Linked DNA regions of Homo sapiens. The protein of the gene in region 2 purifies or fractionates together with the protein of the main gene of each other region. This does not show direct contact. Each region holds a gene or a part of one and is shown on either strand. Other genes may lie near its edges.

Region 1 (3,898 bases), on a different chromosome or scaffold from region 2:
TCTTGACCTTGGGATCCACCCGCCTCGGCCTCCCACAGTGCTAGGATTACAGGTGTGAGCCACCGCACCCGGCTTTTTTTTTTTTTCTTTTTTTTTTTTTTGAGACAGAGTCTTGCCCTGTCACCCAGGCTGGAGTGCAGTGGCGCAATCTGGGCTCACTGCAAGCTCCGCCTTCCGGGTTCACGCTATTCTTCTGCCTCAGCCTCCCAAGTAGCTGGGACCACAGGCGCCTGCCACCACGCCCGGCTAATTTTTTGTATTTTTAGTAGAGACGGGGTTTCACCAAGTTAGACCAGGATGGTCTCGATCTCCTGACCTTGTGATCTGCCCGCCTTGACCTCCCAAAGTGCTGGGATTACAGGCGTGAGCCACGGCGCCCAGCCTGTTTTTTTTTTTTTTTTTTAAAGACAGAGTCTCATTCTGTCGCCCAGGCTGGAGTGCAGTGGTGTGATCTCAGCTCACCACAAGCTCCATCTCCTGGGTTCACGCCATTCTCCTGCCTCATCCTCCCGAGTAGCTGGGACTACAGGCACCCGCCACCACACCTGGCTAATTTTTTGTATTTTTATTAGAGACAGGATTTCACCGTGTTAGCTACGATGGTCTCAACCTCCTGACCTCGTGATCCACCTGCCTCAGCCTCCCAAAGTGCTGGGATTACAGGCGTGCGCCACCGTGCCCAGCCTCTCTCTCTTTTTTTAAGAGATGGGGTCTTGATCTGTCACCCAGTGCAGTGGTGTCCTTGTAGCTCACTGCAGCCTTGAATTCCTGGGCTCAAGCAATCCTCCTGCCTCAGCCTCCTGAGTAGCTGGGACTACAGGTGCATGCCACCACACCCAGTTAACACTATAATTTCAATTTCCTTTTTTTAGGAACTTTAGTTTATCTGACTGACCAACATGTCTTTCATACACTTTAAGTAATTCCTAGAATTTTAACAAATTAAAATCTTCACTGTTCCTTGAAAAGGCCAAATTATCTTAAAACATTAAAAATAAGATTCCTAACATGTACAATTTCTTCAATATAAAAAATTAACAAGCTGGGCACAGTGGTGCTCGCCTATAGTACCAGCTATTCAGGAGGTCTGAGGCGAGAGGATTGCTTGAGCCCAGGAGTTCGAGGCTGTGGTGAGCCATGATCACGCCTGTGAATAGCCGCTGCACTCCAGCCTGAGCAACACAGCAAGACCTTGTCTCTGAAAAAGATTAATTGTATGGCAACCCACAGAGTGGGAGAAAACATTTGCAAATATAAGAGATTTTATTCAGAATATATAGAGAACTCCTAAACCCTAATAAAACACCCAAAAAATGGACAAAAGACATGAACAGACATTTCTTCGGAGAAATTACAAAGAATCCAATAAGTACCGCATAAAAAATGCTCAACATCAGTAATCATTAGGAAAATGCAACTCAAAACCACAATGTGATACCATTTCATACCCATTAGGATGACCATTACCGAAAAAAAGAAAGGAAAAAAATATTGGCAAGGATTTGGAGAATCGGGATTCTGAGGCATTGTTGGGTGGGAAAGTAAAATGGTGCAGCTGCTGCGGAACGCAGTATGGCGGTTCCTCAGAAAATTAAACGCAGAATTACCGTATGATCCAACAAGTCCACTTCTGAGTATAGATCCAAAAGAACTGAGAGCAGAGTCTTTTCTTTCTTTGAGATGGAGCCCAGGCTGGAGTGCAGTGGCGCGATCTTGGCTCACTGCAACCTCCGCCTCCTGGCTTCAAGCAATTCTCTGCTTCAGCCTCCAGAGTAGCTGGGATTACAGCTGCCTGCCAACACACCTGGCTATTTTTTGTATTTCTAGTAGAGATGGGATTTCACCATCTTGGCCAGGCTGCTTGAACTCTTGACCTCGTGATCTACCCACCTCAGCCTCCCAAAGTGCTGGGATTACAGTTCTGAGCCACCCCACTTGGCCTGGGTCTAAATCTCATCTCCATCCTTCCTCTCAAAGATTGCCACATCATTGGACTGGATGGTGCATTTCTTTGGTTTTTAAATTGCATGTATGTGTTCCTGCCTAGCTCTAAAGATGGACAGATTTGTTGTGACTGCAATATTTTTGCATTTAGTAAGGTTACAACGTATAAGTACATCTCAGTCACCTATAATTGGGTTCTGAATCTCTCCAACTTTATCTGACTGTAAGTCACATTGTGGAAGAAGGCTGTTCTCATGACATACATCCCTCTCTGGCTGGCGTTTTGCAAACATACCTTCAATCTTAGTCTTGAAGTGAGGGTATCTGTTGAGAATCTCCACCTGCTTCTTCCAGTCAAATTCATTCCGCCAGTAGGAGATGACTTTCTTCAGGTAGTTGGAGTTGAAGCCATAGTGGAAGCAGCTGTCCTCCAAAGGTGGGGTGAAACGGAACTTATCGATCCTCTGGTGTAAGTCCTGGAGCAAAATTCAGGACCCCAAGTTGAGAGGGATGGGAAGGACAGAGCACAAGAGCAAAGTCTGTTTCCAGAAAACACAGCAAACCCTGCAGCCACAAGATACTGCCCTCTGGGAGTGGCAAGGCAGTTTCCCACATCACTGGCTACTCCCAAAGCGGATGTGTTCTTCACTTCTTCCTTCTTCACTGTAGACTTCGCATTTCTTTTTTCTTTTTTCTTTTTTTTTTTTTGAGATAGGGTCTCACTCTGTTGCCCAGGCTGGAGGGCAGTGGCGTGATCTCGGCCCACTGCAACCCCCACCTCCCAGGTTCAAGCCAGTCATGCCTCAGCTCCCAGAGTAGCTGGGATTACAGGTGTGAGCCACCATGTCCGGCTAATTTTTGCATTTTTAGTAGAGACGGGGTTTTGCCATGTTGGCCAGGCTGGTCTTGAACTCCTGGCTTCAAGTGATCTGTCTGCCTTGGCCTCCCAAAGTGGTGGGATTACAGGTGTAAGCCACTGCGCCCAGCTCATCTTTTACTCTTTAAGTGTATACACGATACTCATCTTTAATTTACCCAGGCGTCTCTACAGCGGGAGTCGGCAAACTTTTTCTGTAAAGGGCCAGATAGTAAATATTCTAGGCTTTGCAGGCTGCAGTGACTCCACTGTCTTCATAGTGTGAAAGCAGCCACAGCCAATGCACAGATGAATGGGGGTGGCTGTGTTCCAATAAAACTTTATTTATGGACAGCCATAGCCAATGCACAGATGAATGGGGGTGGCTGTGTTCCAATAAAAATTTATGGACACTGAAATCTGACTGCTATATAATTTTCACGTCACAAACTATTATTCTTCTTTTGATTTTTTTCCCCCTAACTATTTAAAGAGGTAAACACTATTCTTGGCATGGGCGCTGTGCTAAAACAGGTAGCAGGCTACATTTGGTCTATGGGCCTGGTTTCCTGACCCCTGATATACAACATTGAATGATACATTATAACTGAGTTGGGATAAAAATTACAGGCCAGGCCCAGCACGGTGGTTCACGCCTGTAATCCCAGTGCTTTGGGAGGCCAAGGCAGGTGGATCACTTGAAGTCAGGAGTTCGAGACCAGCCTGGCCAACATGGCGAAACCCCATCTCTACTAAAAATACAAAAATTAGCCAGGCATGGTGACAGGTGCCTGTAATGCCAGCTACTTGGGAGGCTGAGGCAGGAGAATCGCTTGAACCCAGGAGGCGGAGGTTGCAGTGAGCCAAGATCGCACCACTGCACCCCAGCCTGGTGACAGAGCAAGACCCTGTCTCCAAAAACTAAAAAATTTACAGACCAGGAGAGAGGGTGCAAGTCTCATTGGCATGTATTAGGCTAAAAGGCCAGCCCCAGAGGGAGGAAGTTCATGTCAGCTTAGAGAGCCTCTCAAGCATCACCATTCCCAGGCTTCTTCCCAAGTGTTTCAGTTACCCCCAAACAGATTTTGGAAATCTCAG
Region 2 (5,068 bases):
GTGGTCGTGTTCAGGTAAAGGTGGACTTGCTGGGGAAAGGAGGATCATGAAGTTATAGTCCCATGGAGGAAGGGAACTCATTTGAAGCCATCTCTTCCTTTGTCTCATGACCACAGTCCCTTTCACTGAAGCCGAATTCTTCTTCCTTCCTTCCCACTGTTCTACAGCCAAGCAGCTCTCTTCCTGGGCACCCTGCATCTGCAGTGCTCTGAGGAACAACTGGAGTTTCTGGCCCACCTCTTTGTACTGCCTGGTGGGTTTGGCCCAATCAGTAACTGGGGGCCTGAGATCTTCACTGAAATTGGCACCATAGCAGGTGGGGAGCTGGGCCACTGCTGGTGCAAGTTGGTTTGGTTTCTATACCATGGGTGGACTGGATGGAAGACTGCCCTGCAATTCTTCAGGTGTGGGCCTGAGAGGGTGTTTAAATAAGGGGCTAGAGACATATTGGGGAAGGTCTATGATAGGGCACTTTGGGAGTAGTTAGAGAAGGTCTATAGGTTTGAAGAGAGGGAAGGTCAGTCTAAGACAATGTTTGGATGCCACTTGCTTCAACAGCTGGGATCCCAGACCTGGCTCTTTCAGCACTGCTGCGGGGACAGATCCAGGGCGTTACTCCTCTTGCCATTTCTGTCATCCCTCCTCCTAAATTTGCTGTAAGTATTAATGGACTGGGGTGACCACAGGAGAGCCAGGGCCCAATGGGGACTACATGCATGCACTGATTCCTACCCCTGCCCTCAGGTGGTGTTTAGTCCCATCCAACTATCTAGTCTCGCCAGTGCTCAGGCTGTGGCTGTCACTCCTGAGCAAATGGCCTTTCTGAGTCCTGAGCAGCGACGAGCAGTTGCATGGGCCCAACATGAGGGAAAGGAGAGCCCAGAACAGCAAGGTGAGTTCCCAGCTGCACAGCTTGATCCTCCATCTCCTGACCCAGAATCAAACCCCTAATTTGGTGCTGTCTGGCTCTTAGAGTGCACCCAGGGAGATCCCTGGAGTGAAGGAGTCTACAGGCAGAGCGCTAATTTCCAAGTATCAATGCTCCTGGAGAGCTGAGTTGTGATATTACTCCCATTCCCTGTCTATTATAGGTCGAAGTACAGCCTGGGGCCTCCAGGACTGGTCACGACCTTCCTGGTCCCTGGTATTGACTATCAGCTTCCTTGGCCACCTGCTATGAGCCTGTCTCTACAGTAGAAGGAGATTGTGGGGAGAGAAATCTTAAGTCATAATGAATAAAGTGCAAACAGAAGTGCATCCTGATTATTTTCAGAAGCTGATGAGGAATATGGGTAAAATGTTAATGCTTTCCACCCACCTGAGAATCAGTGTTCCTGGGTTGCCATATCTGGAGTCTCTTTCCATCATAAATAATCCCACTGCCTCTTTTCATTTCCTGAAGGCTGCTCCCTCCTCACCCCACCATTAGAAGTAACACAGACAGCTGCAGCATAGCAAGGAGTCTTTACTAGGATGGAGGCAGGGGATGCGAGGGCAGGTCCAGAGCAAGTAGAATGGGCCATCATTAGAATGAGCAGAACTCCTTGGAATCTTGAGTCATCAGCTGGCGATGGGGAGTTAATGCTTGGTGTGGATGACAGGTGTGGGGATGCGGATATCCTGGCCTCTCTCCAGACGCCGTTCACAATCAATCAAATAGTTTACTCCATCGATGACCAGTTGCACCAGCTCCACCTGAAGGACACTAATCTTTGATCTCTGCTTCCTACAGTCTGAGTTTTTCTTTATCACTGACTGACTTGCCTGCTCATTTCCAATTGCCTCCCCACTCAACCTGAATTTCATTTCAGATTATGTTACATCCCGGAGGCTCACTCACTGCCATATTTCAGCCCCCACAGACCTATACCTCTCCTCATCCTAATCCCTTAGGATCTCACCTCTGATTTGCCTAGTCGGTCCAAATTAGAAATATCAAAGACACCGCCTGTGGCAGCAGTGTCCACTCCTCCAGTACCACGCTTTTGGAGTCTTAGGTTCTCCAGGATCTTTGGGAAGCGGCTATCCTAGAGAGGAGATAGGGATTGGGAGCAGGGTCAATAGAGGCAGAGACTAGTCCTACCTGAAAGAGCCCTGAACCTGCTCAGAGCTCTGTCTCCTGAACTTTTTTTTTTCCTTTTTTCTTTTTTTTTTTTTTTAGACAGGGTCTCTCTCTGTCACCCAGGCTGGAGTGATCACAGCTCACTGAAGCCTCGACTTCCCAGGCTTAAGTGATCCTCTCACCTCAGCCTCCACTACACCCAGCTAACTTTTGTATTTGTAGTAGAGATGGGGTTTCACCAGGTTGCCCAGGCTGGTCTTGAACTCCTGGGCTCAAATGATCTGCCTGCCTTGGCCTCCCAAGTGTTGGGATTAGAGGCATGAGCCACTGTGCCTGGCCTGTCCTCTGACCCTTTAGCCACAACATGTTTGGCTCCTCTCCAAAGGGTCCACTCCCTCCCCATCCACAACCCACCCTTCCTTACTCACACCCCTCTGTAACCCCACAACTCCTTTACTTTGCTTAGCAGGGGCAGTTTGATGTGCACTCCTGCCCGAAGTCCAGTGCCCAGGTTAGATGGACAGGTCAAGATGTATCCCAAACGCTCATTCCACATGAACTCCCAGCCACGTTCTTGGATAAGTCTCTCCACCTGAGTCCACAAAGTTTTTATTAATGAAAAATCAGGGATATTTCATTAACCCTGGACCCTCCCTTAGCTAGACCCACAAGAACACTAGAAATTTGTCTAGAATAGAAACTTGGCTGTGAATGAATGACATTGGTCTTTTTTTAAATGAAAAAGGTTTGTTATTGTTTTCATGCATGCATGATGCAAAATTATGATGTGCATAATAATGAGATTGTGAAAAAATATCTTATGTGGAAGAAGAAAACTCGAAGGCGTGGTGTATTAAGGATGATCTAGGGAAATGAACAGAGGTGGTAAACTGAACTGAGAGAGGACTGATTATTCAATGAGGTCTGCATGCATCGATTATCTTTGCTTTGCTAATGAGCCTAGAGCTTGGAAGGGTCCTTTCAGACAGAAGATGAAGGTGTAAGCTTTGCCAGGAAGAGGTGAGATAACGTTCTATTAGCTGTGAACGGAGCACCTGTGTGAATGCAGAGAAAGATGAAAACAGAGCAGGAAAGCCAGATTCATAGGAATAGGGGACAGGGGGAAGGCATTTTGCTTCCATTAACCATGTAGTCATGAAGATGACTATTAGAGTTCAAGAGACAAGGGATCTAGCAGAGTGATGATCACAAAGACCACTATCCAACATGAGTAAAGGGATCCTGTTTGTAGTTCAGAAGGAACCATGCCACCAGGGATATCTTATGTGCTGAACATGGGGGGAAACTCTTCCATCCAGAATAATATTGCAGCTAACACTTTAACACTTATTAAGCACTTACTGTGGACCAAGTACTTTACCTGTATTTCACTTAATCCCCACAACAACCTAAAATGTAGAAAATCTCATTATCCCAATTTTACAGATGAGGAAACTGAGGCATATAATTTAAAGGTACTTCCCTACCCACTCATAGTCAGAATATGTTATCTATTACTTGCCAAAAATAGTAGAAACTTCTCAGAATCTAAAAGAGGAGCTCTTTTTCTTTGCAAACCTAAAATAGAACTGTATGTTTGAGAACATACAGTAAGAATTGAATTGAGTTTATGGGGATTTCTAATGTAGACTTGAATACGGAGACCCAATCCATGTAGGATTGATGATTCAGTTCAACCTCTCATCTAGAGCCACATATTCTAGAACTCGAACCATTCTATCCTCCACCTTCCCCAGTCTCCCTCTGAACTCTCAACTTAAAGCCTAGACCCGATACTTTAACAAGAATGATAGAATCCAGAGTCAAGGCCTACCTTGTCTCAGAACTGGGTGGTTATATTAGAGTCATGAACACAGCAACCTCTCCCCGCCAACATCAATCTAAGCTCGAATGTTTTCCTTATCTGCACACCTCACCATCCCACTGCACACATCCCAGGCACTGACGTGCCATCTCAGTTATTCCTTCTTTGCATTACCTGCCTTCTTCACTTTCTAAGGTTCCTGACACTCTTTTCCTAATCTTAGTGTGACCACATGTCCTGGTTTTCCCAGTATGGTCCCAGCTGGTTTATACCTTTAGTCCTAGAGTGAGTCCTAGGTAGTCCTTTTTACCATCAGACATGTCTTGGGTTGGTTGATAAATTACATAATCTATTTATGCTACTCTTTGGTTTTCCTTATGTCCTCCCACCTAGCTCCCCTACACAATCTTCTCTAACCTCTTTGAGGCCTCGGCAGAATCTTTCAAACACTCTCTTCATGTTACCACCCTTCTCCATGGAGATCACCCGTGTATGATCCTCCTCATTCACCCAGATCAGGAAGCTCTTCTCATTGTTGTGCCTGAGGGCCGGAGAGGGACAGTGATCAAGAGGCAAGGCAAGAATTGGGAGAGATAGAGGGAAAAAAAGCATTTATGAGGGCATGAAGACAAAAGAGGTAATGAGCAGCTTCATACCAAATTCCACGAGCATCTGGCCAGTCTCGAGCCATTCCTGCTGCAGTCAGCAACGGGGACACAGGCTTATCAAACAGAAAGTGGTCCTGGGAAGAGTAACGGGACTTGGGTTAAGAATCTTCATGGTGGCCCCTGGGCCTTTCAGAGCCCATGTCTCATCTGGCCCAGCCTTCCCCATCTGCTCCCACCAACCAGCACCCTCTTAAGGCCCTCACATCAATAAGCTGCTGCTGTTCAGCCTCTGTCATCTCACTGAGCCTATAGTAACGTCCAGCCAGGTCACCCTTCAGGCCACTCAGTGCATCCACCACAACACGTTCCACCTCTCGTCGCTCTGCTCGAGTGCAAGCTGGAGGCAGACTGAGTCCTCGGATGCTTCGGCCAGTTCTGACTCTAGAGGACAATACATACCTCTCATCAAAGTAGCCAGAACGGATCTGGGAGATAAGGGAAATGAATGTAAGTCACAGAAACACGGTGGGAACTGAGGGCCCCTGGGAAAGGAGAGACCTTCCTTAGGCATTA

What was found. Proteins that work in one complex are often made in the same cells at the same time.
Region 1: the proteins of CKMT1A (region 2) and EPHX1 fractionate together in Homo sapiens (co-fractionation; one large-scale study listed by BioGRID). This does not show direct contact.

What each region holds. Positions count from the first base shown.
Region 1 is NC_000001.11:225,830,301-225,834,198, reverse strand, and holds part of EPHX1 (epoxide hydrolase 1), read right to left. Parts: intron 2,421-3,898; coding exon 2,240-2,420; intron 1-2,239. UniProt on the Homo sapiens protein: Biotransformation enzyme that catalyzes the hydrolysis of arene and aliphatic epoxides to less reactive and more water soluble dihydrodiols by the trans addition of water.
Region 2 is NC_000015.10:43,695,600-43,700,667, reverse strand, and holds the end of CKMT1A (creatine kinase U-type, mitochondrial isoform 1 precursor), read right to left. Parts: intron 4,981-5,068; coding exon 4,759-4,980; exon of another isoform or gene 4,758-4,758; intron 4,630-4,757; coding exon 4,544-4,629; exon of another isoform or gene 4,540-4,543; intron 4,429-4,539; coding exon 4,305-4,428; intron 2,655-4,304; coding exon 2,520-2,654; intron 2,028-2,519; coding exon 1,902-2,027; intron 1,696-1,901; coding exon 1,579-1,695; 3' UTR 1,446-1,578; downstream 1-1,445. UniProt on the Homo sapiens protein: Reversibly catalyzes the transfer of phosphate between ATP and various phosphogens (e.g. creatine phosphate).